5 linked regions of the Homo sapiens genome follow. The protein of the gene in region 1 purifies or fractionates together with the protein of each later gene. This does not show direct contact. Each region holds a gene or a part of one and is shown on either strand. Other genes may lie near its edges. The genes, in order: ZNF597, NSMCE1, ANKDD1A, SMC5 and ACADL.

Region 1 (6,089 bases):
CTTTCCCACTCATTCTTGCTGTCATCTTTTTTTTTTTTTTTTAAGAAACAAGTTCTGGCTCTGTCACCTAGGCTGGAGTGCAATGGCACATCTCAAACTCCTGAGCTCAAGTGATCCTCCTGTCTCAGCCTCCTGAGTATCTAGGACTATAGGCATGTGCCACCATGCCTGGCTAATTTTTAAAAATTATTTTTTGTACAGATGGGGTCTCACTGTGTTGCCCAGACTGGTCTCAAACTCCTAGCCTCAAGTGATGCTCCCACCTCAGCTTCCCAAAGTGCTGAGATTACAGACGTGAGACACTGCCCAACCCCTCTCTTTGTTGATAAATATGAATCCTAATCTTTTTTCCAATTGTTAATTGTTCTGCTGTCACTTGAGATAGCTTCAAAAATGAAAGGCTCTTGAGGCCTAAATAGATTAGATGGAAAAGTTCACCTCTAGATAGCTGCTACTGAGATTGTCCTTAGTACCTATCCCACTGGACTCTGACTTAGTTATAGCTATTCTCTCCTTACCTTTGGATATTCACCCAAAACTGGATCTTCTGGGAGGCCAGGAGAGTCTGCTTGGTCCTGATTTTGTGTGGTTAGTGTCTGGGTTATAGAATAACCCTTCTAAGGTTTCCTGGTCCTGTTTGTAACTACCTTAGCTTACTTTTTCCCCAGTATCCCTTGAAGATATTGTCTATGTTTTGCTTTCTTTTGTTTTTATCAACAGGAGAGGAAGGCAAGCCTGAGATTAATCAGCAGTTAAGCCTAGAGTCTATGGAACTTGACGAGCTTGCCTTAGAAAAGTACCCCATTGCTGCACCCCTTGTCCCTTACCCAGAAAAATCCTCTGAGGATGGAGTTGGAAACCCTGAAGCGAAAATATTAAGTGGAACTCCCACTTACAAGAGAAGGGTCATCAGCCTTTTAGTTACCATTGAAAACCACACCCCATTAGTAGAACTCTCTGAATATTTAGGAACCAACACACTTTCTGAAATTCTTGATTCTCCCTGGGAAGGAGCCAAAAATGTGTACAAATGTCCTGAGTGTGACCAAAACTTCAGCGATCATTCATACCTAGTTTTGCATCAGAAAATTCATTCAGGAGAGAAAAAACATAAATGTGGTGACTGTGGAAAGATCTTCAATCATAGAGCCAACCTGAGGACACACAGGAGAATCCATACTGGTGAGAAACCTTATAAGTGTGCCAAGTGCAGTGCCAGCTTTCGCCAGCACTCTCATCTATCCCGACACATGAATAGCCACGTAAAGGAGAAGCCCTATACATGTAGCATATGTGGTAGAGGTTTTATGTGGCTCCCAGGATTGGCACAGCATCAGAAAAGCCACAGTGCTGAAAACACCTACGAATCTACTAACTGTGATAAACATTTTAATGAGAAACCAAATCTTGCTTTGCCTGAGGAAACATTCGTATCAGGCCCCCAGTACCAGCACACTAAGTGCATGAAGAGCTTCAGGCAGTCCTTATATCCTGCCCTTTCCGAGAAGAGCCACGACGAGGACTCTGAACGCTGCAGCGATGATGGGGACAATTTCTTCTCATTCTCAAAATTCAAGCCCTTACAGTGTCCTGACTGTGACATGACCTTTCCTTGTTTCTCTGAGCTTATTTCCCATCAGAACATTCATACAGAGGAAAGGCCCCATAAGTGCAAAACATGCGAGGAAAGTTTTGCTTTGGACTCAGAACTTGCATGCCACCAGAAGAGCCACATGCTAGCGGAACCTTTTAAATGTACCGTGTGTGGGAAAACTTTCAAGTCGAATTTGCATCTCATTACTCATAAGCGAACTCACATAAAAAACACCACGTAAAGTAAATATAACAAATTGTTATTAGTGATTGGGCTTTTCAGTATCTGTATGGTGGGAAGCAGTTACTGTATATGTCCCAGGCAATGTGCTAAGCACTTTACACACATTCCCATGTAATACTTAATTCTCAGCACAACCGTGATTTAGGCAGTATCATTTCCATTTTATAAGTAGGGATGCAAAATCCGTGTCACTAAACTAGTGAATGAACCCAGGATTTGAACTCAGTTACTGTACAACTGTGAGCCAGAAGAAGATACACAACTTTTGTTTAAATTCAATTTTCATTAAAATGAAGGCTCTTGCTAAAGTTATTTTAATTTTGTTTACGTAGTTTCTGACTTTTAGAAGGAGGAGAATTTATTTATATTTTGCCAGTTCTGCAGACATATCTAGGAAAGTAAATGCTTTTATATGTTTTATACTTTTTTTTGCTATAACTATTTGAATGTAATACTTGTATAAGATTGCTGTTCTACATGTGAATTCCCACAGGCGTTCAGAAGTTTTTTTCTGCCCTGTAAAAGTTCCCAAATGGGTAGACTAGTTTATATTTTGATGGCCATTAGTATCCGGAGTTCTCTGTCATGGTTCTGATGCCAGGGGCACATACTGGCATTTAGGACCCAATTGTTTGCAAGGAGTTTTGGAAGTCTAACTGCAGCCCTTTTCTGGAGGCTGGACTTGACTTGGGGAGGGGGAGAAGTACTTGCTCTTTTCTAAGATTTGCCTCCAAATTGCTACTGAAGCACATTACCTGTCTTACTATGAATAATTGTAATTGTTTCTCAGTGAGCATGCTAGCTACTTTAGATATATTATGTAATTTAATCTTCAGAATCTGTGACAGAGAAAAAAAATCTTTGTTTCATAAACGAGGAAACTGAAGTCCTCAGAGGGTAAAGTCAGTTCTTTGCCCAGCACACAAATCACATTGTGGTGAAACTGACATTAAGCTTGGGTTTCTCTGACTCCAAAGGCCATGCAGTCTGCAAGACTGCGGCATTTGTTGGCATTTGCACCACGTAGTAGCACTGCAGGCAGCCAGGGAAAGGGGAGCTGAGATAGGTGAGGGTGGTCCTCATGGAGGCGATTCTGTGTGCTTGCATCCTGGAACCCCTTCATTCCCTTTGTGCTGTACCCAAAGCCTGACTAACATATACAGTTACAAAGCAGCAGAAGACTCTCCAGGACTTCAGGTTTGAATTCTTGTCCCTCTAATCAGATGAGAGATTTCACACTTGGCAGAGTACAATACTGAAGGTCTTAACTGGGTTTTGGTTTTTTAAAAAACACCCATAACATTTCCTCTCCATCTCCAAAGAAAATGCATATAGAAAATTGTTAGATTTTAACCAAAATACTTGATAATATATAGATCTTTAGATATTGCTATTATAGATAAATACTGGAGCAAAATATTATTAAATGGTATGGTTATTAATGTTAAAGAACCACAGAATGTTGTAAATATAGATTCATATACAATTTCTCATTAAAGTCGATTGTATGCCTATCAGCAAAACAATATTTACATGGGTTTTGATTAGGATGGAAGAATGCTCTCATTCTATTTAAATAGACAGTATAAAAGTACAATATTTGCTAAAATTGAATTGTTGCTGGGAATTTTTGCTGGGAGAAAAGATAAAGGACTCTTGAGGACTAATTATATGGAAGGTAGCAGAAGGTGGTCCTACAGAACAGCAGATTGAGGACTAAATATACAAAAAATGCTGGCTACTCAGCTAAGCTCTTATTACTGAGTAGAGGCAGGAAGATACTGTTCAGGTGAGAGAAAAACTGAAACTAACAAAAACATCCCTAACCCAGAGAGAGTTTCTCTCTCTTTGTCATTCTTGTCTTGTTTCTTGTTTGCAGATCCACAGTTGAGACAATGTGCTGCTCTGTATGTCAAGGTCAGACTTTGGCTGTTTGTTTCTGATGTCTCCACTCTTAGGAGACAGGACACCAGCTTCCAGGTTTCTCTGAGGTGCTTTGAAATGTGTAGAAAGATAGTCTCCAGTTAGATTACTTATTAGGCAACTCTGAGATACCATGACCTTTGTTAAATAACAAGAACACCACCTCCTTGCTCTCCTGCTTCTGCCCTCAGTGGGAGAAACTGGCAGGAGCCTCATCAGCACATATCAGGGGCCCTAAGAGTTCAGTCAAAGATCTAATGAGTCACAGGATGGGGGATGAAATTGGGAAAGGTCTGGATTAGCAGAGTTGCTGCAGAAAGAAGTAGAGGGGAATATCTTAGAAGGCACTTGGACAGAATGGGGGTGATATAAAAGATGTATGCTGTCATTTTTGTTTTGGCTCCTAGAAAATATAGCAGAAAGTGAGAATTTGTGCCATACATCCTGTTCTGCACCTTAATATGGAAGTTTGCCTTTCCACACGAGTCTTCCTTCACAATTAACCTCTAATTTTTTTTTTTGCAGTTTTCTCCAGATTTTGGAAGATTACGACAAACTTCCTAAAAGATTAGAAAAAATAGCCCTTTTCAGAAACATTAACATACGTGTGGGTAGAACTAAAATGGCTTTTTGGTATAATACTGTTAATGATTAGTATGCAGAAAAAAATGAAAACCCCGGAAGTGTCAGTTACTGTGAAAGAGGCATATTTTCAGTTGTGCTTATTGTGCAGTTGTACTTAAATACATTTGCTAGATGTAATTCAAGCTGCTTTACCCCCAGGGAATTGAAGGAAAAGATATATCTGCTGGTGAGCTTCAGGCTTTTTATGATGATGGCATTTCACCCTTCTGTTTACAGTGTCAACTGATGGAGATAAATTCCATAAAATTGTCATTAACTCAGATACTAGCCTTCCATGTTAGGTGCTATTCACAAATACTGGATAAAAGTTAATATGGGAATGAAAAACTAAATGCAAGAGTTTATTGCTATGAATGATTGGTTAACTGCATTTTGCAGCATGGAAATCAACACACTATGAGAGTGAAAACTTTGTGCTGAATAAATTGACTCAGACAAATTTCTCCGTTTTTGTCGTTGATGCAGTGATGAAAATGTATATCCAACAGTTCCTTAACATGATTGCTGGAATAGTTAAACAGTCTTTTAAACAGTCGTCATTGATGAAAACAGCATTTTTCCAATGGAATTCAGATGTCAGCAGTTTACATTTTATAATTTAAGAAATTGTGGAATGTAGTTGTTTTGAATGAGGTCGACTCAGAATAGTTTTATTTAGAGCTTTGTTGCTACAGGTGGTAGTCTATTGACACCTCCTCATTTAACATAGAAAATGACTAACCCAATAATTCAGGGAGTTAAAACTCAAATGACATTTCACAGCAAATGCCATTTTGAGTCTTTGCCTCCTGAGTTTCCATATAATTAAGTGGCAATGTTCTAGTGACTGCAGCATAAGATGTCATACAATCTGAAACTGCAGAGTTTGATCAAAGTAATCTGCAATTTACTGCCTATGTGTACAAAGGGAGACATAGCAGGTTATAGTTTATATGAATAGTCTATTTTGAATGTTCATTAAACTTGTTATCCCTGTGGGATTTTAGTAGGAAAGTGTATTTGCTTTGACCATCTGTTTAACAAAATGATGTTCATTACATTAGAAGTGTATGTATTCATCTGGTTTAGTTTTGTAATTTAGAAGAGCTATTGATCTGATTCAAAGATAACCATTACCCATCTTTCCAAGGCCCATCTAAGTAGTACAGGTGTTTTGTCTTTTAAAATTGACAGTCCTCTTTGCATTAAGTCTGTAGGGGGGGAATACAATATAAATATTCTTCTGTGTAAACGTAAGAATGTGCTGTAATCTCCAGTTCCTTTGGATACCTCAGAATTCTATTTATTGTATACACTTATACTGTTTATTCAATGTTTTGGGTCTTACTCTTTTTGACGTATTCTCATCAGTCTTCACTCTAGTTTGCAAGCTCTGAAGTTATTGATTACGTCTAATGTGCAATTTGGCTTCTATTAAATGCTATTTTATGATGATGGCAATGAAGTGAACTTTTTAAAAAAAATACGTGGTTTTAGGTGGCAATCAGGTTAATTTTGAAGACTGTTAGGATTCTGGTTTAGAGACAGAGAGTGAAGGACTTCGTGCTACTTAATAAGGGAAGTAAAATCGCTTGCTCCCTGGAACTCAGCAGAAAATTCTGGGTCATTCTGGGAAGCTAGCGCTAGACCTCAATTTCCTTTCGTCTTTGCTGTACACAGAAGTACAGGGGCAAGGACCTCTGTC
Region 2 (6,089 bases), about 24 Mb from region 1:
TGTCAGCAGAGATCACAGGACCCTTCACTTTTATCCTGTTATGTTCTTTTATTAAAAAGAAAAGTCTTGAAGCCAACGTGACATTATTAGCCTAACAACATGACATTAATTAGTGTAGTCTACTGGTTGTCACCTCTGATGAATGGGAATGCAGGCGTTTGGTTTTTATTCTGCCTTATTCTGCCTTTCTCTCTGTATTTTTAATTTTCAAAAGAAAAAGATAAAAAATGACATAGAAGTGAGCCAAGCCAAGAGGTATGAGAAAGGGCGTGTACAGGTACACAGGGAGCAAGTACACAGGTGAAGGGACACAAAAAAAAGGCAAAAAGATGCTTTCATTCTTAGTCCACAGGCATCCTGTAGCTCCTTGCAGTGAGCTGTGAAAGGGCGAAGGGACACCAGAAAGGGTGTCCCTCCTGTCCCCAAAGGCAAACACTTCATGAGTGCATTACATCTTCTTCCCAGCCACTTTTATGCCTTTGCATGCAAATGCATTCAAAAGTGATGAAGATCATTTTATACTTTTCAAAATGTGAAGGGACACGAGAAAAGGTAGGTGTCACATTTGGAGCACTGCAGTTTCTGCAGCATGTTAGAGTTCAAAGCCTGATCCCAGAGAGGTGAGCAGTGAATGGGAATAAGAAGAGGGAGACAGAACAGAAACGAATATTCTTTCAAGGTGTGCAAAGGAAGGAGGAATAAAAGAAGGTGGCGTGTTAGACGGAGAAGAAGCAGTTTGAAGTGTCTGGAGAGTAGCATCTGCGTTCTCCAGAGCACTGGTCCATGGAGGTGTTCCATGGGGAATTCTGGGAGCTCAGTAATGCCAGGAACAAGTTAGCCTGTTGAACTGTGTTTAATTCTGTGTATCCAAACCTAATTGACCTACTGATAACCTACCCTGGGAATCCCTAGACAAGAATATATGATGTGTGGGAAGAGAATACATTCTTTTCGTGTGTAGGTTTGCAGATCATGAAGAACCCTATACACCATAGTAATGGCTTTTTACTTCTGCGGACAGTGTGGCCCTCTTGAAGTATTCAAAGCAGAGAGTGAGAGAGACAGTTTTAGGTTTGAGAACCATCTCCGTGGTGAAGGTAGATGCGCCGCAGTTGTACCAGCAGAGAAGGATCTTTGGTGAGAGACTTTTGTATTGAAAGGGGATGTTATACCTGTTAAGCTAGTTTCTCTTGCTCTTTAAAAAGCATAGTAGCGGCTGGGTGTGGTGGCTCACACCTGTAATCCCAGCACTTTGGGAGGCTGAGGAGGGTGGGTCACCTGAGGTCAGGAGTTCAAGACCAGCCTGGTCAACATGGTGAAACTCCATCTCTACTAAAAATACAAAAATTAGCCGGGTGTGGTGGTGCATGCCTGTAGTCCCAGCTACTTGGGAGGCTGAGGCAGGATAATTGCTTGAACCTGGGAGGCAGATGCTGCAGTGAGCTGAGATCCTGCCCCTGCACTCCAGCTTGGGCGACAGAGCGAGACCATGTATCAAAAAAAAAAAAAAAAAAAAAAAAAAAAAAAGCATGGTTGGACTTTAAACCTACCCCTCAATATCCTCCAGAAATGTGCATAAGAACGCTTGTCTTCAGCCTGAGCAACATGGTGAAACCCAGTCTCTACCAAAAGTACAAAAAATTAGCCAGGTGTGCTGGCACACACCTATGGTCCTAGCTACCCAGGAAGCTGAGGCAGGAGGATCGCTTGAGCAGGGGAGGTGGGGGTTGCAGTGAGCTGAGGTTGCACCACTGCACTCCAGCCTGGGCAACACAGTGAACCCCCATCTCAAAAAAATAAAAGAATGCTTGTGTTAATCCTGAATCTCTTATTTACACGACAATTTAGTCCTTTTCTCTTTTTTTCTCCTGTGAGTCTTGACTGTAAGCTTTCATGTTGGTGGGGAAGTTTCACAGCTCACTGCAAGGAGCCACATGATGCCTTGGTACTAAGACTGAAAGTGTTTTTGCCTTTATTTGACCTTTAAAATTGTTATGATCTAATTTAGGAAAGTCCTGTAGAATGTGTCTAGGAATTGATTTATTCTTCACACTGTGTACCATTTCTTTGCACCTAGATATGGTTATGGCCAGGGTGAACAGGGTAGAACAATCTATTTTGTCCTATCTTCATTTAAGAAAAATGCCAAAAAACTTGTTACTGCATGTTCTTGTTATTAGGGAGATTTTAAACAGGAAATGACAGAAATTATCTAAACTTAAGTGAATACTCGCAAGACCCAATATTATTAATTTCCTATCTTTTGAAGAGATGGCCAGGAAAATCCCCTTGTACCAAATAGAAAAATATTTAGCTTCTAGGAAAATTATGAAACAAAGGAGTGATTGAAATTGCAAGTTATTCTAATTGCCATTTCCCAGGGTGTTTGTCCAGTTTATCAAATCACTTCTTATTCTAGGCTTTGGTTTGGGTTCTCTTCTTACTGTCGTTAAGGGGAAACAAAGTCCCCAATTCTCCTGGCTAGTGAAGAGTTTAGATTTTGTTCTCAAGTTCAGTGCAGGCCTTGGGTCGAGCCTTTCGGAATGGCGCTAGGGACCTGTGTTCTTAGAGGACCTTAGATTTTTGAGCCAGGACTTGCATCCACACATACGTTTATTCAACCAGCAAAGCTTCCCTAGAATCTCAAGTGAGCCAGGCCTCTGTGCTAGGGACTGGTGACTCAGAGATTGAATTTTTATTTTACCATGGCTCTCATGAGTCATACAGACAAGGGGTCAGATGATTCCAATATAGGCCTCCTTGATAGAAGTCGGCACAGGAGGCCTCGGGGGTGGTGGAGAAGGCTTGGGTTTGAGGTTTTCCACTTTTGGCCAGTATGGAGCAACAGGGCTCAGTACACCTTCTTGCCTGAAACAATTCAAAAATGGACAAAGTATAAAATACTGGACATTCGTCAGTCAAGGCCAGTGATCTTTCGAGAGATGGGCAATGAGGGTTTCTTTTTCTCTTGACACTTGATGTGGTATCTTTTCTAACACTACTCCAGTTCTCTAGATAACAACTGGGCATTCCATAATTCAGTTTAATTCTGACACTATCTGCCTGGAGTTAGCATCAAATCCTACAAGTTAAAGGGCTCAGTGTCACAAGACTGACCCAACTTAAGACACCAGTTGTAAGTCCTGGGCTACCTGTGTTTCTGACCAATGGCTGTACATCAGTGGTTCCCATAACTCCCTCTTTGGATTTGATAATTTTCTAGAATGATTCATAGAACTCAGGAAAACACTTTACTTACATTTTGACTTACGTGGTTTTTTTATAAAGGCTACAACTCAGGAACAGCCACATAGGAGAGATCACAGGGCCAGCTGTGGGAAGTGGGGGTGGCATGGAGTTTCCGTGCCCTCTCTACTTGCACCACCGTCTCAACGCCTCTGTGTGTTTAATAACCCGAAGCTCTTCAAATCCTGTCGTTCAAGGGTTTCTTTTTTATTTTTATTTTTATTTTTTTTGAGACAGTTTTGCTCTTGTCGCCCAGGCTGGAGTGCAATGGCAAGATCTCGGCTCACTGCAACCTCTGCCTCCCAGGTTCAAGCGATTCTCCTGCCTCAGCCGCCTGAGTAGCTGGGACTACAGGCGTGAGCCACCACACCCGGCTAATTTTTGTGGTTTTAGTAGAGATGGGGTTTCACCATGTTGGCCAGGCTGGTCTCGAACTTCTGACCTCAGGTGATCCGCCTGCCTCCGCCTCCCCAAGTGCTGGGATTACAGGCATGAGCCACCGCGCCCGGCTAAGTTTTAAATTATTTGTAGAGACGGGGGTCTTCTTCTGTGGCCTAGGCTGGTCTCGAACACCTAGGCTCAAGTGATCATCCTGCGTCAGCCTTCCAAAATGTTGGGATTCAGGCGTGAGCCACTGCACCCAGCCCAGTTTCAGGTTTTATAGGGCCTGTTGATTATTGAATTTGGCACACTCTAAGAAAAATAATCCCACAAAATTGTGAATCCACCATTAGAAATGATTTGAAATATTTATTTAGCCACCGTGCCTGGCCATTCCTGGGTTTCTATGGAGGTTTCTTTACACAGGCATGATTGATCAGTCACTGGCCGTTGACGAGTGCTTCCATCTCCAGTCCCTCTCTTCTCCTCAGATATTGGGGAGTGGCTGAAAGTTCCATGTTTTTTATTGAGGCTTGGTCATTCTGGTGACCAGCCCCCATCCTAGGGGCCTGCCAAGAGTTGCCTCATTAGAGCAAAAGATGCTTCTATCACCTATATGACTCAGGGAATTCTAAGAGTTTTAGAAGTTCTGTACCAGGAACCTGGGGGAAAGACCAAGTAACTTTCTTCTGCCACAAGCGATAGTGGGAGTGAGCAGTACAGCTGCCCCAGCTCAGTGCCTTTAGAAAGTTTCTAGGCCATGGCACAGGGGAAACCCAGGCAGAGCTAGGCAGCCTCCCTGCGTTGAGGAGATGGAGATGAGAGTTCAGGGAGACTAAGGCAGGTAGAGGTTGCAGGACGGAGTACTTACAATGGAGTATAAGGTGGACCAGAGGTGCACAGAGAGAAAACTTGAGATGTCCAAAGTGCCCCTCCACTCAAGGATCCCGCTGAGAACTGATGAGCAAGAAAACTTCTTAAGGCCAGGGAGAGAACTAGTTGAAGGATTAGAGAAAACAATGCCAGCTATTCACAGAACTGGGAATAGTGCCCGGCCCAAACATTTGAGGAAGAACTCACACCATTTCTACCCAAACTCTTCTGTAAAATTGAAGAGAATATGTTACAACTAATTCTATGAGACCTGCATGATTCTGATACCATAACCAGACAAAGACATTGCGAGGAAAGAAAACCCCAAACAAGACTCCTCATGAGCGTAGACGTTAACGTGCTAAACCCAACTGTGGCAAATCTAATCTAACAGTGTTTACAAAGGATGGTACGACATAACCAAGTAGGGTTTATCCTGATTTTGCAGGGTTGATTTAGTATTAATATTTGAAAATCAGTGTAATTCACCATATTAAGCTAAAAAAGAAAAATCTTGTGTTTATCTCAATAGGTACAGAAAAAGTATTTGACAAAATCTCATGTTTGCCCTGGTGTGATGTAGCAGAAAGTTTTTTATAGGAAGCTAAGGGATCCTAAGTAGCAGGGGATAAATAGGATAAATAGACTTAGAACACAAGTGAGGAGTCTGAACTCTACAGAGTTTTATATATATATATATATTTATATATATATATATATATATATATATATATTTTAAATAATTAAAATTAAGGCTGGGCGCGGTAGCTCACGCCTGTAATCCCAGCACTTTGGGAGGCTGAGGTGGGCAGATCACCTGAGGTCGGGAGTTCGAGACTAGCCTGACCAACATGGAGAAACCCCGTCTCTACTAAAAATACAAAATTAGCTGGGCACGGTGGTGCATGCCTGTAATCCCAGCTGCTCGGGAGGCCGAGGCAGGAGAATTGCTTGAATCCGGGAGGCAGAGGTTGCAGTGAGCTGGTATCGTGCATTGCACCCCAGCCTGGGCAACAAGAGCAAAACTCCATCTCAAAAAAAAAAAAAAAACAGTTAAAATTAAATAAATTTCATTTATTTTATTATTTTATTTTATTTTTGAGAGAGAGTCTCAAAAAAGCCTCCCAGGCTGGAGTGCAGTGGTGCCATCTCAGCTCGCTACAACCTCCGCCTCCTGGGTTTAAGCAGTTCTCCTGCCTCCGCCTCCCGAGTAGCTGGGATTACAGGCACGTGCCACCACGCCCGACGAATTTTTGTTATTTTTAGTAGAGGTGGGGTTTCACCGTGTTGGCCAGGCTGGTCTTGAACTCCTGGCCTCAAGTGATCTCCCTGGCTTGGCTTCCCAAAGTGCTGGGATTACAGGCATGAGCCACCGCGCCTGGCCCTCTACACAGAGTTTAAAAAAAAAAAAAAATCCAACAGCTATTCCTGATTAAAAAACAAAAACAAAAACAATACCCTCAGCAAAGTGAGAAAAGAAGGGAACTTCCTTAACCTGATAAAGGGGATCTCTGTAAAACCTACAGCTAACATCACTCTTAATGGTGAAAGACTGAATACTTTTCCCTAATCTCAGGAGAAAGACAAGA
Region 3 (6,089 bases), on another chromosome or scaffold:
ACGCCAGCCTGGCAACAGAGGAAGACTCCGTCTCAAAGAAAAGGGAGGGAGTAACTGTAAGTAAATATCCATTGGAAAAGTGATTTAAATATACATTTTAGAAACAAGGAGAGTCACAATTAGCAAGGTAAAGTAGACTCTGAAAGGACAAGCAGATGTGCATTTCCAAAGGCGGAGTCTATTCTGTTCAGTTTCTACTTTATGAGACATCTAATTTTTGGTGATGGGGTGGGGAACAATTTCCAATGCATCTGCACCCCTCCCCCTCCTGCCCCTCAGGTCACAGCTCCCCCTCCTTCCACGCATCCTGTGCTCCAGCCACGCTACTCCCCAAGGTGGGGGGTCCCTCTCCACACCTCTGGGCTATTGCTTAGGCTGTGCTGTTGGCTTGGACTGCCCTTTTCCCCACTTCTGTCTCCTCTGTGAGCTGCTTCCTCCCCTTCCTTTCTTCCTTCCCCCAGGAAGGAGTCCCATAGTTGTTTGCACCCATCCATTACAGCGTGGACTGCACCTTATTACAGTTATTGGTGTGCAAGCCTTTCTCCCCTACTAGACCCTAAGCTTGGGGAAGGGGAGGGAACTGTGGGCTCTCATCTCTGTACCCACTCCTGGCAGGCCACCTGGCACAAAATCCACTCAGGAAGTATTCACTGTCCGTGAGTTGAGCCATTGTGCTTACATAGCACCAATCTGTGACAGCTTGTCTGACCTGGAATTTCACCCTGTATTTCCCAAAGAAAAGATATGAGTACTGGATTTGAGAGATATATTTCAACATTTCAATTTTATTGTATTTAAGAACTTTTTTTTCTCAGAAAAAAATTACAAAATTCATTTTATAAAATTCATCCAGATAAATGATTTCAGTCCCATATGGTACAAAATACCTTTCCCAAGGAATAGATGATTTAATTTAAAGCCTCTGTTTTCTTTTCCTTTTATAACTTTACTTTTGTTTTTTTTCACAGACTTTCTATTTTAGAACAGTTTTAGGTTTAGAGAAAAATTGAGCAGATAGCACAGAGAGCTCCCACGTACTCTTCAGCACACACAGTTTCCCCGATTATTAACATCTGGCATCAGTGTGGTACATTTGATACAACTGATGAACCAATATTGACACGTTACTATTAACTAAAGTCCATAGCTCACATTAGAGCAAACGCTTTGTGCTGTACATGCTATGGGTTTTGACCAATGCCCAATGTCATGTACCCACCATCACAGTGTCATACAGAACCTTTCACTGCCCTAACATCCCCTGCGCTCCACCTCCTCATCCCTCCCTTCCTCTCACTGCCCTTGCAGCTCCTGGAAATCACTGATCTTTTTACTGTCTTTGTAGTTTTGCCTGTTCCAGCATGTCATATCCTTTCAGTTTTCAGTAAGTAACACTCTCACACATTTCAAAAGTTAAAACTGTATAGAAAGGAACCACTGAGAACTCTTTCTCCCACCCGGTCCCAGCCCCACTGTTCCCCATTATCCTACTACCCCAGGGAAACCACCTGATTAGTTTCTTAGCCTTTGTCTAGCTTTTATTTATGCAAATATGTTTTCTAATTTCCTTTCTTTCTTACACAATTAACAGCATACTATTAGTAATATACTATATGCACTGATCTGTATCGTGTTTTTTTAATTATAATTATTCTTTTAATAAAATGCTTCACTGAGAGCAGGGAAGCCACCTTACTTTCCCAAAAGTTACACAATACATGGTAGTACCAAAGAAATATCTGCTGAGAGAAATACTATTTTGGGAAGTAGTTAATAATTTTACAATATGCAATAGAAGCAGACACATGAACAGCTACAATGTGGATACAAGTTTTGTCAAATAATCAGGAGAAAAAAGAATAAAAATTACAATGGCAAATGGCTGTCCAAATTTTCCAAGTCCAACTTTATAGTGCTGTGAAGAAAAGCATGAATATGAGACTCTCAATAAACATTTGTGCATCCATGAAATTGAATTATTTAGGTTTAAAGATAGAATTTTGGAAAACTGAAAATAATTTTTGTAATTTCAAGGTAAAATAATCTTTACTTTCAGAAAACACATTGTAACTGTGATAAGCCATAGCATTTATTCATGTGTATAAGATAAAAACACAGAAAGTATTCTACTCTTATTATTTAAGGTGGAAAAAGGAATAATTGTGAAATTATGTTTCAATTTTCCAGCCTGGCCATCATGGCCAAACCCCATCTCTACTAAAAATACAAAAATTAGCCAGCTGTGATGGCATGCACCTGTAATCCCAGCTACTCGGGAGGCTGAGGCACAAGAATCATTTGAACCCGGGAGGCGGAGGTTGCCGTGAGCTGAGATCTCGCCATTGTACTCCAGCCTGGGTGAGAGAGCAAGACTGTCTCAAAAAACAAAACAAAACAATTATCACCCTTAAAGTGTAGCTCAGAAAGATTTAGAGTAAGAGCATACATTTAGCTCGCAACATATATGTTAGGAAACAAAAGAATGCTGATTAAATATAACTTAGTGGTAGGTAAAGTTGTCTATTTTTTCCCTATCATATATCATAACGTAATAGATCACAAATATGTTTTAGAATTTTTCTTAAGTTTTAAGAATCCAAAAATGGCTGGGCTCCGTGGCTCATGCCTGTAGTCCCAGCACTTTGGGAGGCTGAGGTGGATGGGTCACCTTAGGTCAGGAGTTCAAGACCAGCCTCACCAACATGGTGAAACCTGTCTACTAAAAATACAAAAATTAGCCGGGCATGATGGTGTGTGCTTGTAATCCCAGCTACTCCGGAGACTGAGGCAGGAGAATTGCTTGAACCCAAGAGACGGAGGTTGCAGTGAGCCAAGATCACACCACTGCATTCCAGACAGGGCAACAAGCGTGAAACTCTGTCTCTTTTTTTGTTTGTTTGTTTTGAGACAGAGTCTTGCTCTGTCGCCCAGGCTGGAGTGCAGTGGCACAGTCTCGGCTCACTGCAAGCTCTGTCTCCCGGGTTCATGCCATTCTCCTACCTCAGCCTCCCAGGTAGCTGCGACTGACTACAGGTGCCCGCCACCATGCCTGGCTAATTTTTTGTATTTTTAGTAGAGACAGGGTTTCACTGTGTTAGCCAGGATGGTCTCGATCTCCTGACCTCGTGATCTGCCCGCCTTGCCCTCCCAAAGTGCTGGGATTACAGGCATGAGCCACTGCGCCCGGCCAAGCTAAACTGTTTCAAAAAAAAAGAAAAAAAAAAGGAATCCAAAGAAAAAAATACATCACCTGCAAAAGGTGAAGAGAGAAAGGAAGCTTTTTCTCTAAAAATGGTGCAGCTATCCTCTGAACCAATTTCCTTCGGTTTAATGTACCTGTATCTTGGGGTTTTTTTCCACTTAATTTATCCTGGAGCTCTTTCCATAACAACACTTGGAAAGCACTCTCATCCTTTTTTCACTGCTGAACAGAATTCCACTGTGTGGATGGAACATACTCTATTTCACCAGTCCCCTGTAGCCAGTCACTTGGTTTGTTTCCAATCTTTTGCTTTTTCAGAGTAATAACCTTGTATGTCTATCATTTTGTATGCATACAGGTTTATATGTAGGAAAAATTCCTAGAGTAGGATTGCTGGACCAATGGATAAAAGTATATTGTGGACAGACAATGCCAAATTGCCTTTCAGAGACTGTGGCCCTGTGCACCCCATCAGGCATGTGTGACTACCAAAGCTCCTGTCAGCTGTTTTATTTTATCTCCTTTCCAGTCTCAGGCTCAATGCAGAACTTTGAGGTAAGCTTTTCTAAAATGTAGGCTCCTAAACGCCACAGCCAGCTCTGCCACATGAAGGAGAGCTCAAATGAGACAGAAACAGCCTCTGGGCAGGATTTCTATCCTGCACAGATATATTTTCCACATTCTGGGAAACCGTGAAGCTTCCAGAGCCACAATTCCCCAGAAACACATCCCCCTGCTGGTACAGCCAAGCCCCAGAACAAGCTGTGCTTGCCTGGCACCTCAAAGCCAAGCACCATGGATGCCACTTGCTATGGGTGCCTGCAATTTCAAATAATGAGAAATAAGAAATTTCAGCTTCTCAGTCCCTCTAGCCAACATTTCAGGTGCATGACAGCCTCAGGTGGCAAGCAGCTACTCTGCCGGACAGGGCAGAAGATGGAACACCCCATCCCTGGGGAAGATCACGAGGTCAGGAGATCAAGACCATCCTGGCTAACACAGTGAAACCCCGTCTCTACTGAAAATACAAAACATTAGCTGGGTGTGGTGGCAGGCACCTGTAGTCCCAGCTACTCAGGAGGCTGAGGCAGGAGAATGGCGTGAACCTGGGAGGTGGAGGTTGCAGTGAGCCAAGATTGCGCCACTGCACTCCAGCCTGGCAACAGAGTAAGACTCCATATCAAAAAAAAGAGAAAAGAAGAAGAAAGAAAGAAAGAAGAAGAAGAGGAAGAAGAAGAAGTGGAAGAAGAAGGAAAGAGGAAGAGGAGAAGCAGGAGAAGAACAAGGAGAAGAAGAAGGAGAGAGAAGAAGAGACAAGAAGAAGGAGAAGAAGGAGAGAGAAGAGACAAGAGAAGAAGGAAGAAGGAGGAGGAGAAGGAAGAAGAAAAGGAGAAGAAAGAAGAAGAAGGAAGAAGAAAGAACAACAAAAAGAAGGAGAAGAACAAGGAAGAAGAACAACTAAGGAGAAGGAAGAAGGAGAAGAAGAAAGAAGAACAAAAAGAAAGAAGAAGGAGAAGGAAGAAGAAGGAGGAGGAGAAGGAGAAGAAGAAGGAGAAGAACAAGGAGAAGGAGAGAAGAAGAAGAGACAAGAAGAAAGAAGGAGAAGAAGAAGGAAGAAGAAAAGGAAGAAGAAAAGAGGAAGGAGGAGGAAGAAGGAGAAGAAGGAAGAATAAGGAAGAAGGAGAACAAGGAGAAGGAAGAAGAAAAGAAGAAGGAGAAGGAGGAAGAAGGAGAAGAAAGAGGAGAAGAAGGAAGAAGAAGGAGAAGGAAGAAGAAAAAGAGGAAGAAGGAGAAGAGGGAAGAAGAAGAAGGAGAAGACGACGAACGAAGGAGGAGAGGAGGAAGAAGAGGAAGGAAGAAGAAAGAAGAAGAAAAGAAAAGGAAGAAGAAGGAGAAGAAGAGAAGAAGGAGAGGAGGAAGAAGAAGGAAGAACTAAGAAGGAAGAGAAGGAGAAGAAAAGGAGAACTAAGAAGGAAGAAGAAAGGAAAAGAAGGAGAAGAAGAAAGAACTAAGAAGACGAAGGAGAGGAAGAAGAAGAAGAAGAAAAGAATAAGGAACAAGAAAGAAGGAGAAGAAGAAGAAAAGAAAGAAGAAAGAATAATAAGGAACAAGAAGAAAGAGGAAGAAGAAAGGAGAAAAGAAAGGAAGAAGAAAAGAGGGAGGAGAAAGAAGAAGAAAAGAGGAAGAAGAAAGAAGAAGGAGAAAAGAAGAAGAGGAAGAAGAAAGAAAAGAAGAGGAAAGAAGGAAGAAGAAAGGAAAGAAAGGAAGAAGATAGAGGAAGAAAGAAGAAAAAAAGAAACAATAGAAGAAGAGGAAGAAAAGAAAAAAGAAAAAGAGAAGAAAGAAGAGGGAAGAAAGAAAAGAGGAAGAAGAAAGAATGAAGAAGAAAGAGGAAGAAGAGGAAAGAAGAAAAGAAGAGGAAAGAAGAAAAGAATAAGGAAGAAGAAAAAAAGGAAGAAGAAAGCAGAAGAAAGAAAAGAGGGAAGAGGAAGAAGAACGAAGAAAAGAGGAAAGAAGAAGGAGGAGAAGAAGGAGAAGAACAAGGAGAAGAAGAAAGAAGAAGGGAGAAGGAGAAGAAAAGAAGGAGAAGAAAGAAAAGAAGGAGAAGGAAGAGGAAGAAGAAGGAAGAAGAAGAAGAAGGAGAGAAGAAAGAAGAAAAGGAGAAGGAAGAAGAAGAACTAAGAAGAAGGAGGAAGAAAGAAGGAGAAGGAAGAAGGAGAGGAGAAGAAGGAAGAAGGAGAAGGAAGAGGAGGAAGAACTAAAGAAGAAGGAGAAGGAAGAGGAAGAAGAAGAAGGAGAGAAGAAAGAAGAAAAGGAAGGAGGAGGAAGAAGAAGGGAGGAGGAGGAGAAGAAAAGGAGAACTAAGAAGAAGAAAGGAAAAGAAGGA
Region 4 (6,639 bases), on another chromosome or scaffold:
CTTACTCTATTTTCTCTGGAGCGGAGTCCTTGTGTGAGAGGAAGCAGCAGAGACCTGGGAAAGGAGCTTTGGTCTAGGAGTCAGGAATCAGGGATCTACTGCAATAGCTTTCTAAGTGGCCTTCCACTTCCACACTTGGTGCCCTCTAATCCATTTTCCACACAGCAACCAGAATTATTATTTAAAAACTTTAAGGCCAGGCACAGTGGCTCATGCCTGTAGTGCCAGCACTTCGGGACACCGAGGTGGGCGGATCACTTGAGGTCAGGAGTTACAGACCAGCCTGGCCAAAATGGTGAAACCTCGTCTCTACTAAAAATACAAAAATTAGCCAGGTGTGGTGGCATGCACCTGTAATCCCAGCTACTCGGGAGGCTGAGGCAGAAGAACCGCTTGAACGAGGGAGGCAGAGTTTGCAGTGAACTGAGGTGGCACTACTGCACTCCAGCCTGGGCGACTGGGTGAGACTCTGTCTCAAAAAAATCAAATAAAAAAAATCAAATAAAAAAATTAAAAGCTTTAGTCAGAACATGGCCCTCTCCTGCTTAAAACTTTGCAATGGCTTCCCATTGCTTTAAAAATAAAATTCAGGCTTTTCCACGATGGACAAGGTTCTGCTCTGCAACCTTGTTCACTGCTCTGCAGCAACACTGGCCTTCCCACCTCAGAGCTTTTGTCCTTACTGGTATGTTCCAGCAAAATTCTTTTGCCTGGGGTGCTCTTTTCTCAGATCGTCACAGTTTCTTCTCGTCCTTCAGAGTTTATCTTAAACACCACCACCTCTCTAAGAGGCCTTCCGTACCTCCCACCCATCAGGTTCATTTTGTTTTCTTCCTAACACCTGTCACAGTCTGACATTATGCTAATCATTTGTTGTGTCAGCCTTAAGTAGTGAAATTCAGAAAATATCATTAAGTATAGAGTTTATTCTAACGCAAAGCTTGAGGACAGCCACCTGGAAACACCAACTCCAAACAAATAGGGTCAATGTTCCAAAGTGAAGTTAAGGTTTCATTTACACAGGCAGAAACAGAGAAGGTTCAGCAGGAGTACATTTTCAATACAAGAGCAGTGCATAAATTACAGCGATTAGATTAGTTATAGATAGCTACATTCCAAGGAAGATAACTATATTAATTTATGAAGGGGGTAGTGATCTGAGGGGGTCTTACCTCTGTCTCTGTTTGGTCTTCCTGATTATAGGAAAAAACAAGGCAGACATTGCAGCTGTATGCCATGGGACTCAGGCCCCATCGCCACATTCTTCGCAAGGCTCAGAATAATTTAAAGTTCCAACAGCTTTAAGTTTGAATTATTTAATTTCACAGTTGATTCACTTGTTCTTTTCCTGTCTCCCACAATAGAAAATAAGCTCCCAGGGATGCAACCTTGGCAGGCTCCTAAACTGCCACGGCTCCAGTTTCTTGTAGATTAGATATTCACTGTTGGTTAAATGAAAGAAGTTCTAGACAGGCCTCGGTGTGCTGCCTCCTCTTTAACGAGAGGGCTTACTAGATGAATGTGAGCAGACGGAAGCAGAACACCCTCTTAATGAAGGCAGCGCATTCCAGCTCAGGGATTTCTAGAAACCTCGGGGGCGGAAGTTTAACCAGAGAATTAGGAGGCAAGGGGAAGAGTAGCAATGAGGTTAACCTGTGCAGTGTAGTCATTTCACGAGTTTGAGAACGCCTAGCACGATGCCTTAACGGAGCGTCGGGCACAGAGTCATTTGGGAGGATTTCTTTTTCGGATTTTTGAGACAGGAACCTGATTTGAAGCAACAGGGAAGAACACCAAGAGGACGAAGAGCCAACGACGGGCGTGCCCGGGAGCTCTCACCTGGAAGGGGTGGGAGCAAGCAGGGCCTGACGTCCTCCCGCCTTGGCGGCCGTGGACGCCCCAGGTGCCACCCACAGCAGCCTCCCACCACACATGACTGAGGCTCGGGAAGCAATAAAGTGGCTTTCAAAATACTAAACGCAATTGAGATTTTTTCCTGAGTTAAAACAAAAAAAAAAAGGAACTGAATGCCGAAATATACGGAGAAGAAACTCCAGTTGCCACGTCCCCGAACGTCTCCACCCAGTCCTGCCTGCTGTTTCGCCCTCAGTCTGGGCCTCGCACAGCGCGGCGGAGCGCGGGAGGGGCGGGGCGGGCCTGCTGACGTCGCCGGACCTGAACTGCGCAGGCGCGGCGCGAGATCGCGGGAGCGAGCGCGCGGTAACAGTTCGCGGCAGTTCGCGCGGGAGCGGGGCGCCTGGGTGGATGGGCGCTTGGGCGCCTGGGCTGCCGGACGGTGGGAACGGAAGTCGCTGTGGGACGCTGAGGAAGCCAGGATGGCGACTCCGAGCAAGAAGACGTCAACTCCAAGCCCCCAGCCTTCCAAGAGAGCTCTCCCGAGAGACCCTTCGTCGGAGGTCCCGAGCAAGAGGAAGAATTCGGCCCCGCAGCTGCCGCTGTTGCAGTCGTCCGGGCCTTTCGTGGAAGGCTCTATCGTCCGCATCTCGATGGAGAACTTCCTGTAAGTTGCCCGGAGGCCGCGCCGCGGGTGTGGAGGTGTGCTGGCCAGCAGGCCCCGGGGCTCCGGCAGCGCGCGGGCGTGGGCGTGTGGGTGTGTACCTGGCTTGTGGGTCTGGCCTTGAATTCGTGCCGGGGTTCCCTTGAGGATTTTCCTACGTAGGCTGTGGAGATTGACGTGTATGATGTAGGAGATGTGTGCCTTGGGTGATGTGGTTTTTAAATTTAGTCAGCCAAGGTTTTCCAAAGGTGTCATGTAGCAGGTAGTGGTTGTAGGAGGGAGTAGGTCTCTGCCCGCTGGGAGTCGCGATCCATAGCGGCCCTGGTCTGGAATTCACAGAAGTATTGTCCCCGGGAACTTAAGAGGAGGCAACAGTTAATTCGGCGTGATAGTGATGCTGTGGCGGATTCTTAGGGTAGGCATTTGCCAGAGAGGAGTAGATAAGACGGTAAAGGTTGTTCGGGAATGGAGGTTACAGGTACAAAAAAATTAAACACTTACTGGCAATTGTTGGACCTCCCTACAAACCCTTGACCCCACTAAACCCAGTTTTCTTCCCTGGTTCCTCCCTCTCCCCTTCAGACAACTAGTTACCGCTTTAGAATTTAGTAAGTTTTAAATATATCATGTATTTGCCTAGCACCTTCCAGTTCATTTGTTCCAGGTCTTTTTTTTTTTTTTTTTCCTCTTTTTTTTTGAGACGGAGTTGCGCTCCTGTAGCCCACGCTGGATGGAGTGCTGTGCCGCGATCTCGGCCCACTGCAACTTCCGCCTCTCGGTTTCAAGCGATTCTTCTGGGTCAGCCTCCCGAGTAGCTGGGACTACAGGCGCGCGCCACCACGCCCGGCTAGTTTTTGTTTTTGAGACGGAGTGTCATACTGTCGTCCGGGCTGGAAGGTAGTGGCGCAATCTCGGCTCACTGCAACCTCCGCCTCCCAGTTTCAATCAATTCTCCTGCCTCAGCCTCCCGCGTAGCTGGGATTACAGCCAGCCGCCACCACGCCCAGCTATTTTTTTTTGTATTTTAGTAGACTCGCGGTTTCACCGTGTTGACCAGGCTGATCTGGAACTTTTGACCTCAGGTGATCTGCCCGCCTCGGCCTCCCGTAGTGCTGGGATTACAGGCGTGAGCCACCATGTCCGGCCGGAAGTCTTTTTAAAGCTTGCACATAGTGGCATAAGGATAACAGAATTGTAATAACAATACTACCTTTTTTTTTCAAGCACCTATTGTGTGCCAGGTACATAGTGCACTCATTCTTTCTTCATAACAACTCTATCTTGATAATTTCCATTGCTGAAAGAAGCTCAGTAGGTTATTTTGCCCAGTTTTACGCAGCTGTTACATAGTTGCATTGCTATTTGAATCCAGATCAGGAAAGATAAATGTAATCAAATGAGTTAGATACCATAACAACATATATCAGGATCCTTCACAAAGGATGAAGTGGTTAGTTTTGTCTACGAGTATGAGAAAGGGCTTTGTAAAGAAGATATGAAAGTCTTTGGTCTTGCTCTGTTGCCCACGCTGGAGCTCAGTGGCATGATCAGGGCTCCGTGAAGCCTGGACCTCCCCTTCTCAAGTGATCCTCCTACCTCAGCCTTTCAAGTAGCTCGGACTATAGGCGCGTACCATACCTGGCTAATGTTTTAAAATTTTTTTGTAGAGATGGGGTTTCACCATGTTGCCCAGGCTAGTTTCGAACTTCTGGGCTCAAGAAACTCACCTCGGCCTCCCAAAGTGCTGGGATTACAGACATGAGCCACTGCACCCGCCTAAGAAGATAGGAAAGTCTTGCAAGAAGTGAAGAGCATTGAAGACAGAAGGAACTGTCTGAAATAGTTTGGTATATTTAGAAAGCGTCAAGTATTTTAGTAAGGCAAGAATATAGGATGTGAATGAGTATTTGGACAAAGGGTAAGCAACCATTCAGGGGCCTGTATGTTTACTATGCTAAGAAGTTCCGACATCATCCTGTAGGCAGCCACGGTGTGTTTTCAACAGGGAATGACGTGTGTTCTGTGTTATTCTGGAAGCACTGTAGAGGATGATTTAGAAAGGGTGCAAGATTGGAAGCAAAAAGACAATACGAAGGCAAGAGATGATCAGAGTGTGAAGGAATGAGATTTGACAGGATCCAGCTACAGAATAGTTGTGAGGCATGGGGGAAAGGGAGGAATGCAGCATTTTTCCCAAGTGTAAGAGCCTTAGCTAATTGATCAGGTGCTATTCAGAAGAGGGAGCAGTTTGAGGAGAATAATAAATGCCTCTTAGATCCTGTGACTTAAAGTTTCCTTTGTGGCATCTAAGAGAGATGTTCTATAGGCAGAATGTAGGAGTCTGGAGCTTAGAGGAAAATATGAACAGATGAGAGTTTTGGGAGTCATGCATACAGGTGATTGATGAAGTTGCAGAACTGGTTATGATTGCCCAATAGGAATTATGAATTGAAGAACTAGAAGACCATGTACAGAGTCTTGGGAGAATGCCTACATTAAGGGTGAACTGAAGAAGGACTCAAAGTCAGAAGGAACTATTCAGGGAGGTAAGATGAAAACAGTGGGAGACAATTATCAAAGAAGCCAAGGAAAAAGAATGTTTCAAAAATATCACCTGCTACATTGAAGTCAGATAGCGGGACTGAAAAGAGCCCACTGCATTTAGCAATTGGGAAATCTTTGACCTTTTAATGAAGCAGTGGAAGCAGAAAACTTTGCAGGCCGGATGCAAAGAGAAGAAAGAGAAGGTAGCTGGAAGTGCAGAGGTTGGTGAGATGCTGTTTATTTTAATGAGGGGATTTTGAGTTTTAGGCATGAGGTAGAGAAAGATGCGCTTAGAGAATTAGCAAGGAAATAAGATGGGTAGTTAGAGAATGTAAATGGCCTGGAAGAGAGTAGTGAGTGAACCAAGTCAAATGGAGTTGGGAGTGGAGGAAGACACTTGGAGGCTGAAGGAATAACATGTGCAAATACTTCAGAGCAATAAGGAATTATAGTCACAAAACTGAAAGAAGTACATTATAGGTAGAATTTAGAGGTCTAAGGAGAGAATAGGGAAAGGAGATAAAAAGTAGAAAAAGATGAAACTCGGCTGTGATGGGTTTTTCCTTAATTTTTCTTTTTTAACAAGTGACATCAGATTTACAATTCTACCAGCATCACTTGGTGATTGATTGGATGATGGAGTGGTGGTTTGGGTGGAGTCAAAAGAGATGAAAGAACCAAAGAGGATGCAAAACTAATGCCTAGGTTTCTGATTTGGTCAATGGCATGAATGATAATACCATTCACTAAGAGACCACAAGAGTGGTTTTGGATGGGAAAGATGGTGGATTTCGTTTTAAATGTGTTAAGTTTAAGATGACTGTTATGGGACATTCAAATAGCGTTATTGAGGTGACCATTGCATATAGAGGTCATCTGGACTGCTTTCAGCATGTAGATAGTATGCAAAGACTTGGAGAAAAAAAGGAATCATTGAGGCCATAGAGAATACATGAGATACCTCGTGAAGTATATGGAATGATAAGAGGGTGGGTCTTTACCAATAGCTCTTTCAGAGGGAGCTCAGAGGAAAGGAAACTCATGATAAGGGAATTCCCAATAAATACATCGTAGAATCAGAAGATTGATTTTAAACAGTGCAGACACTTGATCTGGGTAGCTAAAGGCAAGAAAAATCCCCCGCCTACCCCCGCCAAAAAAAAAAAAATTGCAGAGGCTTTGTTTTTGGCAACTGTCCCTATTTGTAATATCGATGCGTATTTTATAGGCCAGAAATTCTCATGCTTTTCCCTGTTCTGTTTTCTTAAATACCAGTTTCATCGTTTTAGTATAACATTTACACAGAGATTTCACAACAGGAAATCCAAGTGGGGCTTCATGTGTTGAGCGTAAGAAGTTCCATGTCAGGTAATTTCCTACATGTCTGAAGTTCCCAAACTAGTTTTATTGTAACCATAATAAAGGGCTCTTTTGAAACCCAGCTGCTAGCAGAACAAAACAGCTAAAAAGATAAAGTAGTAGATGCTGTGTAGAGGTGTGGGATTAGCAAACCTGCCAGAAAATACGTCTTTGCCACCTGTATTTTTATTACCACCCGACATTTCAAAATCATTAAT
Region 5 (6,089 bases), on another chromosome or scaffold:
TCCCCTGCCCATGGTATTAGCCTTTTTCTGGTGGAAAATGGAATGAAAGGATTTATCAAGGGACGAAAGCTACATAAAATGGGATTAAAAGCCCAGGTGAGTGATAATGTAAATCATATTCAGATACTAATTGAGTTTACTGTTAATCAGATAGGAGACTTACATAGAGGATTACATGTGGCACAATTTTATTTCCTATGCTGAATTCCTAAAATATGCTTTTCTGATGTGGTAATGAGATTTATTCTCATTTATACCACTCTATCTTTCTGATGGTCAGCAATAGAAATGAATCAAGGTATTTTGAATATCTGTTTTAGAAATGGCAAAATTAACTGCATGGTAACAAGCCATCTATTTGTAAAATGCATTAAAGAAAAATATGAAATAAAAATAAAGTGTGGCCAGGCACAGTGGCTCACACCTGTAATCCCAGCACTTTGGGAGGCTGAGGCCAGCGGATCACCTGAGGTCAGGAGTTCAAGACCAGCCTGGTCAATATGGTGAAACCCCATCTCTACTAATAATAAAAAATTAGCTGGGTGTGGTGGCAGGCACCTGTAGTCTCAGCTACTCGGGAGGCTGAGGCAGGAGAATCACTTGAACCCAGGAGGCAGAGGTTGCAGTGAGCCAAGATCACGCCACTGCACTCCAGCCTGGGCAACAGAATGAGACTCTGTCTCAAAAAAAATAAAACAAACAAACAAAAAAAACCCAGAAAATGTTCTTTCTATACATTACCAAAAATGCATGTTTTGCTTAATATGTATTAGAAATCCTTAGTTCCAAGTACCTTGAGAACTGGACAGTATTAGAGCTGGAATGATAGTGTATTGCAGTAGGAAAGCCACAAGGTTTAGAATCAGATGGCTGTGGGTTCAAATCCCTGGTTTACCACTTACTAGTTATGTTCATTAACTACTCCAACTTGGCTTCCAATTTGTGTTTTGTTTTTTTGGAAAAAATAATATTCACTTCAATATTCACTGGGTTATTGGAAGATTTAAATGAGACCATTCTCTACATTTTTTGTATGGTCTCTTAGGATACCGCAGAACTATTCTTTGAAGATATACGGTTGCCAGCTAGTGCCCTACTTGGAGAAGAGAATAAAGGCTTCTATTACATCATGAAAGAGCTTCCACAGGTCAGAAGTGTTTAAAGATTCCATCTTTTGACTGAATAATGAATTGGAATAGAATAATATAGAAACATGTTATTTCTATATTATGCATTCAAATTTATACATGCAAAACTTGTGAAATAGCTAATCATTTGAGTATTAAAGTTGTAATAAAAGTATGAGTTTTATAGGGTAGTTAAGTAAATAACTGAACTCAGTAATATCCAATCAAAGCTTATAAAGTAAGTAGGAAAAACAGATATTTCAGTTCTGTGATTCCTTCTTAGAATGATTTTAGCTTCTTAACTACAATTCAAAAACTTTTAGCTCTTTGTAAGGAAATGTCTTGCAAAACATTTGATAGTTTGCCAGTTTTTAAATAATAACTGTGAATCAAAGGGAAAAGTATAAAATTCAGACTGAAAAGTTTTAGCCACATAGGGTCAGTCCCTAAACAGCTATGGTTTTAAAGTATGGTTGACAAGTGATTATTGAGCCTCAGATGCCAGTGTAAGGGGGTACTCCTGCCTAGTGACTGCCATGAAAAACACCAGCATGATGGAATCAAACTGACTAAGGCTACTTTTACATTAATAGGTAGAATTTAACTTATGTGCTTTAAGATGTTTATTTCCACAGATATATTGAGTCATACAGTGTGCAGAGATTAATAAATTGAAATAAGCAACTGGGGATTGTTTTTAACTCACATGTGAGTAAAGAGAAGAAAAATTAAATTGCATATATATAATGAAGACAGTCATTCATGGGCATGGTGTTATGTGACTGTTGTCCCAGCTACTCGGAAGGCTGAGGTGGGAGGATCACTTGAGCCCTGGAATTCCAGGATGTAATGAACTATGATTGTGCAACTGTACTCCATTTTTGGCAACAGAGTGAGACTTTGTCTCTTAAAAATTTAAAAAGATTATAAAAAAATAAAGGTAGTCATTCATAAAAATAAAGGATTTGCTTTAGAAAGTGATTAGAGATATGTCAAAAGAATCTCATAAATCTGTTTTCTTATAAGGAGTTAAGATATAAATTAATCTTTATGAGTTTATTATAAAGATAATTTATAGGATTTATCGTAATTGAAATTGTGTGAAAATCACTTGCATAATTAGAGTAATGTTTAAGACCTAATTTTTGTGTTATAGGAAAGGCTGTTAATTGCTGATGTGGCAATTTCAGCTAGTGAATTCATGTTTGAAGAAACCAGGAACTATGTTAAACAAAGAAAAGCTTTTGGCAAAACAGTTGCTCACCTACAGGTAAGCTTGTCACTGTGGTTTAGTATTAGATGGTATCAGTTTACTAATCTGAAATGGCCTGGGGTAAATAGAAGTTTGGAGTTATTTTCATGTAAGGTGATATTAGAAACCATGGAAGTGGATGAGATCACTAAGGAGAGATAGTAGAGAGTAAGACAGGAGTGGTCTTAGGACACAGTCCTTGAGGAAGACTACAAGATTTAAAGGTAGAATTCATATTTGGAATTCATATTGTCTGAAAAGGAGGAGCCTGTAAGATGACTGAGAATGAATAAACAGAAAGGAGAAAGCAAATCAGGAGAGCTTTGTCACAGAAGCTGGAAGGAAAGAGGGCTTCATGGAGTAGGGAGTGGGATCAATTGCTGCTTAGGGGAAAAATAAGACGAAGGGCAAAGAGTGTTCATTGAATACAATGATATGGAGATTATTTAGTAAGAGCCATTAATGGAGGTGGAGGGTGACACACCCGATGAGTAGATAGAAATGAGGACGTAAAACAATACTGATGGTAGGCAACTCTTTCCTGAGTTTGGCTGTGAATGGTAGTTGAGAGAAAGGGTGGTAAGCGAAGAGGGGAGGGGAAGGAGATTTGAGATTCAAGGGAGATATTTGGGAGTTATTAATTTTTTGTCGTTATTTTTAGGATGGGAATGCGGGTGCATATTTTAATACCTGTATATAAAGAAAGGATTTAATAAAGAGGGAAAGGTTGTAGATAGGAAGGAAATAATCAACTGCGTAAGGTCTTTGAGAAAGGGTGAGTTTGTGGATGCTGACACATGGAAAGATAGGCCTTCCCATCAACAGGAGAGGGATTCCTTCATTTGCACAGGAAGAAAGGAGCAAAGGACATCTATGAGTTCAGACAGATACATCACTCTGTTGGTAGAAAACTACAAAAGTTCTTTATAGAAGACTTCTATTTCTTTAAATAACGTGGCCAGGCACACTGACTCACGCCTGTAATCTCAGCACTTTGGGAAGTTGAGGCAGGCAGATCACTTGAGGTCAGGAGTTCGAGACTAGCGTGGCCAACATGGTGAAACCCTGTCTCTACTAAAAATACAAAAATTAGCCAGGCATGGTGGTGCACACCTCTAATCCCAGCTACTCGGGAGGCTGAGGCAGGAGAATCACTTGAACCCAGGAGGTAGAGGTTGCAGTGAGCCAAGATCGCACCACTGCACTCCATCCAGCCTGGGCTACAGAACAAGACTCCATCTCAAAAATAAACAAATAAATAAATAAATAACAATAGAGAAAGTCCTTGAAAGACAGGTGAGTGAAGGAGGCATGGAGGTGTTGCAGAAGGGTGAGGGAGGTATGAAATATCTTCTTCAGAATGAGAAACTAAACTACTTTCTGCTTTTTGTGTATCAATCAGCTTTATGATAAGAGTTTAGCTTCCCAGGTACAAACATAGAGAAAAGACAGATGATTGTGTTTACCTAGGATTGAGTTTTCCCAGGAACTTGAGGGTTTTTGCAAAAGAACTCAGTATATAGTGGCCGCAGTCACTAAATATGCTAATTAAATTTTAGACCCTATAGTTTCTTTTTAAATGAAGGAATAGTTTATAATTCCTTCATGTGGTCATCAAATTGGCAAAACATCTCACCAGCAAAAAACCTGGAGTTGGGATTTGACTTAAAAATTTTTAAGTAGAATGACTGGCTGAAAGGCTTTGTGAAGGGAAAGGTAGAAATGAAACAACTTGGTGGCTTTTCAGAACCAGCATTCTAGAAATTATGTTCAAGTGTGGTTTATGTCCTAACACAGCTACTTGAATCTCCGTAGTCTAGTCGTGTTCTCTCTCTCAAAAATAGTTTCCTATTTGTAAATATATAAAATGTATTTGATTTGCAAAATTGTAAAATTTTGACTATAAATCTTTAAAATTTATAACGTTTGTAAATATTTATAAAATATTTTCCTACTTGTGAATATCAGAGACTGCCTCATAGCGTTGTTGTGAGGATTATGTTGTAGAAAAAACTGGGTTCTTGTCACAGGACCAGGATAATTTGGGCACGCAGACACATTGTAGATTGAGTAGGGCAGGGTTTATTAAATGAAAAGGAGAAAGGAACTCTCAGCAAAGTGAAAGAAAGTCCTGCGAGCAGTTCTCCTGCCTCACAGATTGAATCCTAGGTCATCACACAGGAACAGGAGAGGCTAGGCTCCTCTCCTCTGCAAACAGTGTGAACTTCCCGAGGCTCCACCCCGTCCTCCCAGTGCACAGGTGGGCATTATTCAGAAAGGATCAGTTGGGAAAGGGCAGGCTTCATCTGGGACCAGCAGTCGGGTTTTTCAGCCTTTAGGCTGTTTAGGCTTGAAGGCAGGGTTTCACCAGAGACCCTCGGCTGTCTCCTGTCTCTATCAATTAGATGGGGTAATATACATAAAGCGCTTGGAATATTGCCTGGCAAAGTAAGCCCACATTAAAATTAGCTGTTATCCTTATTTTATTCCTTACATAATGCCTTGCTCCATTTTGTTTCAATATGGGAGACCTTTTTACCATCTACTTCCTCTTGCTCTTGATCTAGACCCTCTCTTTGTCGTTTTGGGAACTGTTTGCTACCGGTATTGTCATCAAATTAACTTTTTCCATCCTGAAAAAAAGTCTTTACATCCTAACTTTTCTTATTGACATAACAAACCTAAAACAGTTGTTCTGAATCTCTAAAAATGAGGTACACTCAATCAAGAAAACATTTAACAAAACAGTATGACTTGACTTGATTAAATTCTGATTTCCTTAAGAGCAAGGATGTTATACTTTATATTCCCTTTCATTTATGGATCACTGATTTACACGTATCAGAGGTTCTCAGTGAATGCCCTTTCACTCAGGTGTTTAGAAATGTCAGGAATGAGGTGGAGGTGGGTGTGCACAGTTGACTGGAGGTATAACTTGTATAGTGCCCTGGAGGACAGTGTTGTTAAATGTCCTGTAATTCACATTTGGATTACAACTAATTGTGTCACTCAAAATATCAATAATTTCCCATTGAGAAAAACTGACATATATGATTTTTTCCTTTTTGGTTCACTGAACAAATATATATTGATTGCCTCCTAAGGGTAATGTGTTCAACTGTAATTTGATGGGTGTAACTCTAGAAACACATACTACGCTCCTGGCAATATGAAGGAAGTGTTACCACTTGATATCACTCTGATTTTCTCAACTGTACCCAAAGTGGAATGAGTATCATTTGCTTCTGAAATCCAACCACCACCACTTAAACATCAAAAATGTTTACTAAAACACTTATACCAAGGCCAGGCATAGTGGCTCACACCTGTAATCCCAGCACGTTGGGAGGCCTAGGCAGGCAGATTGCTTGAGCCCAGGACTTTGAGACCAACCTGGACAACGTGGCAAAACCTCATCTCTACAAAAAATACAAAAATTAGCCAGGTGTGGTGGTGTGTGTCTGTAGTCTCAGCTACTCAAGAGGCTAAGGTGGGAGGATCGCTTGAGCCCTGGAGGCAGATGTTGCAGTGAGCTGAGATCTCACTATTGTACTCTAGCCTGAGTGACATAGCAAGACCCTGTCTCCCTGCTCCCCACAAAAATGAATACAAAAACAAAAATATACCTTTAGCCTTATTTTGGCTAAAGGTATAACAGTTGAACCAAAAGACATGTTTCCATTCCTTTGGAAATCTACATTTCCTGTGTT

What was found.
Region 2: the proteins of ZNF597 (region 1) and NSMCE1 purify together in Homo sapiens (affinity purification with mass spectrometry; 4 studies listed by BioGRID and IntAct, with this or other methods). This does not show direct contact.
Region 3: the proteins of ZNF597 (region 1) and ANKDD1A purify together in Homo sapiens (affinity purification with mass spectrometry; one large-scale study listed by BioGRID and IntAct). This does not show direct contact.
Region 4: the proteins of ZNF597 (region 1) and SMC5 purify together in Homo sapiens (affinity purification with mass spectrometry; 4 studies listed by BioGRID and IntAct, with this or other methods). This does not show direct contact.
Region 5: the proteins of ZNF597 (region 1) and ACADL purify together in Homo sapiens (affinity purification with mass spectrometry; one large-scale study listed by BioGRID and IntAct). This does not show direct contact.

Annotation. Positions count from the first base shown.
Region 1 is NC_000016.10:3,432,170-3,438,258, reverse strand, and holds the end of ZNF597 (zinc finger protein 597), read left to right. Parts: intron 1-720; coding exon 721-1,835; 3' UTR 1,836-5,845; downstream 5,846-6,089. UniProt on the Homo sapiens protein: May be involved in transcriptional regulation.
Region 2 is NC_000016.10:27,250,305-27,256,393, reverse strand, and holds part of NSMCE1 (non-structural maintenance of chromosomes element 1 homolog), read left to right. Parts: intron 1-6,089. UniProt on the Homo sapiens protein: RING-type zinc finger-containing E3 ubiquitin ligase that assembles with melanoma antigen protein (MAGE) to catalyze the direct transfer of ubiquitin from E2 ubiquitin-conjugating enzyme to a specific substrate.
Region 3 is NC_000015.10:64,953,368-64,959,456, reverse strand, and holds the end of ANKDD1A (ankyrin repeat and death domain-containing protein 1A), read right to left. Parts: intron 2,355-6,089; coding exon 2,269-2,354; 3' UTR 766-2,268; downstream 1-765.
Region 4 is NC_000009.12:70,256,743-70,263,381, forward strand, and holds the start of SMC5 (structural maintenance of chromosomes protein 5), read left to right. Parts: upstream 1-2,235; 5' UTR 2,236-2,336; coding exon 2,337-2,521; intron 2,522-6,639. UniProt on the Homo sapiens protein: Core component of the SMC5-SMC6 complex, a complex involved in repair of DNA double-strand breaks by homologous recombination.
Region 5 is NC_000002.12:210,199,639-210,205,727, reverse strand, and holds part of ACADL (long-chain specific acyl-CoA dehydrogenase, mitochondrial precursor), read left to right. Parts: coding exon 1-96; intron 97-1,045; coding exon 1,046-1,147; intron 1,148-2,283; coding exon 2,284-2,397; intron 2,398-6,089. UniProt on the Homo sapiens protein: Long-chain specific acyl-CoA dehydrogenase is one of the acyl-CoA dehydrogenases that catalyze the first step of mitochondrial fatty acid beta-oxidation, an aerobic process breaking down fatty acids into acetyl-CoA and allowing the production of energy from fats.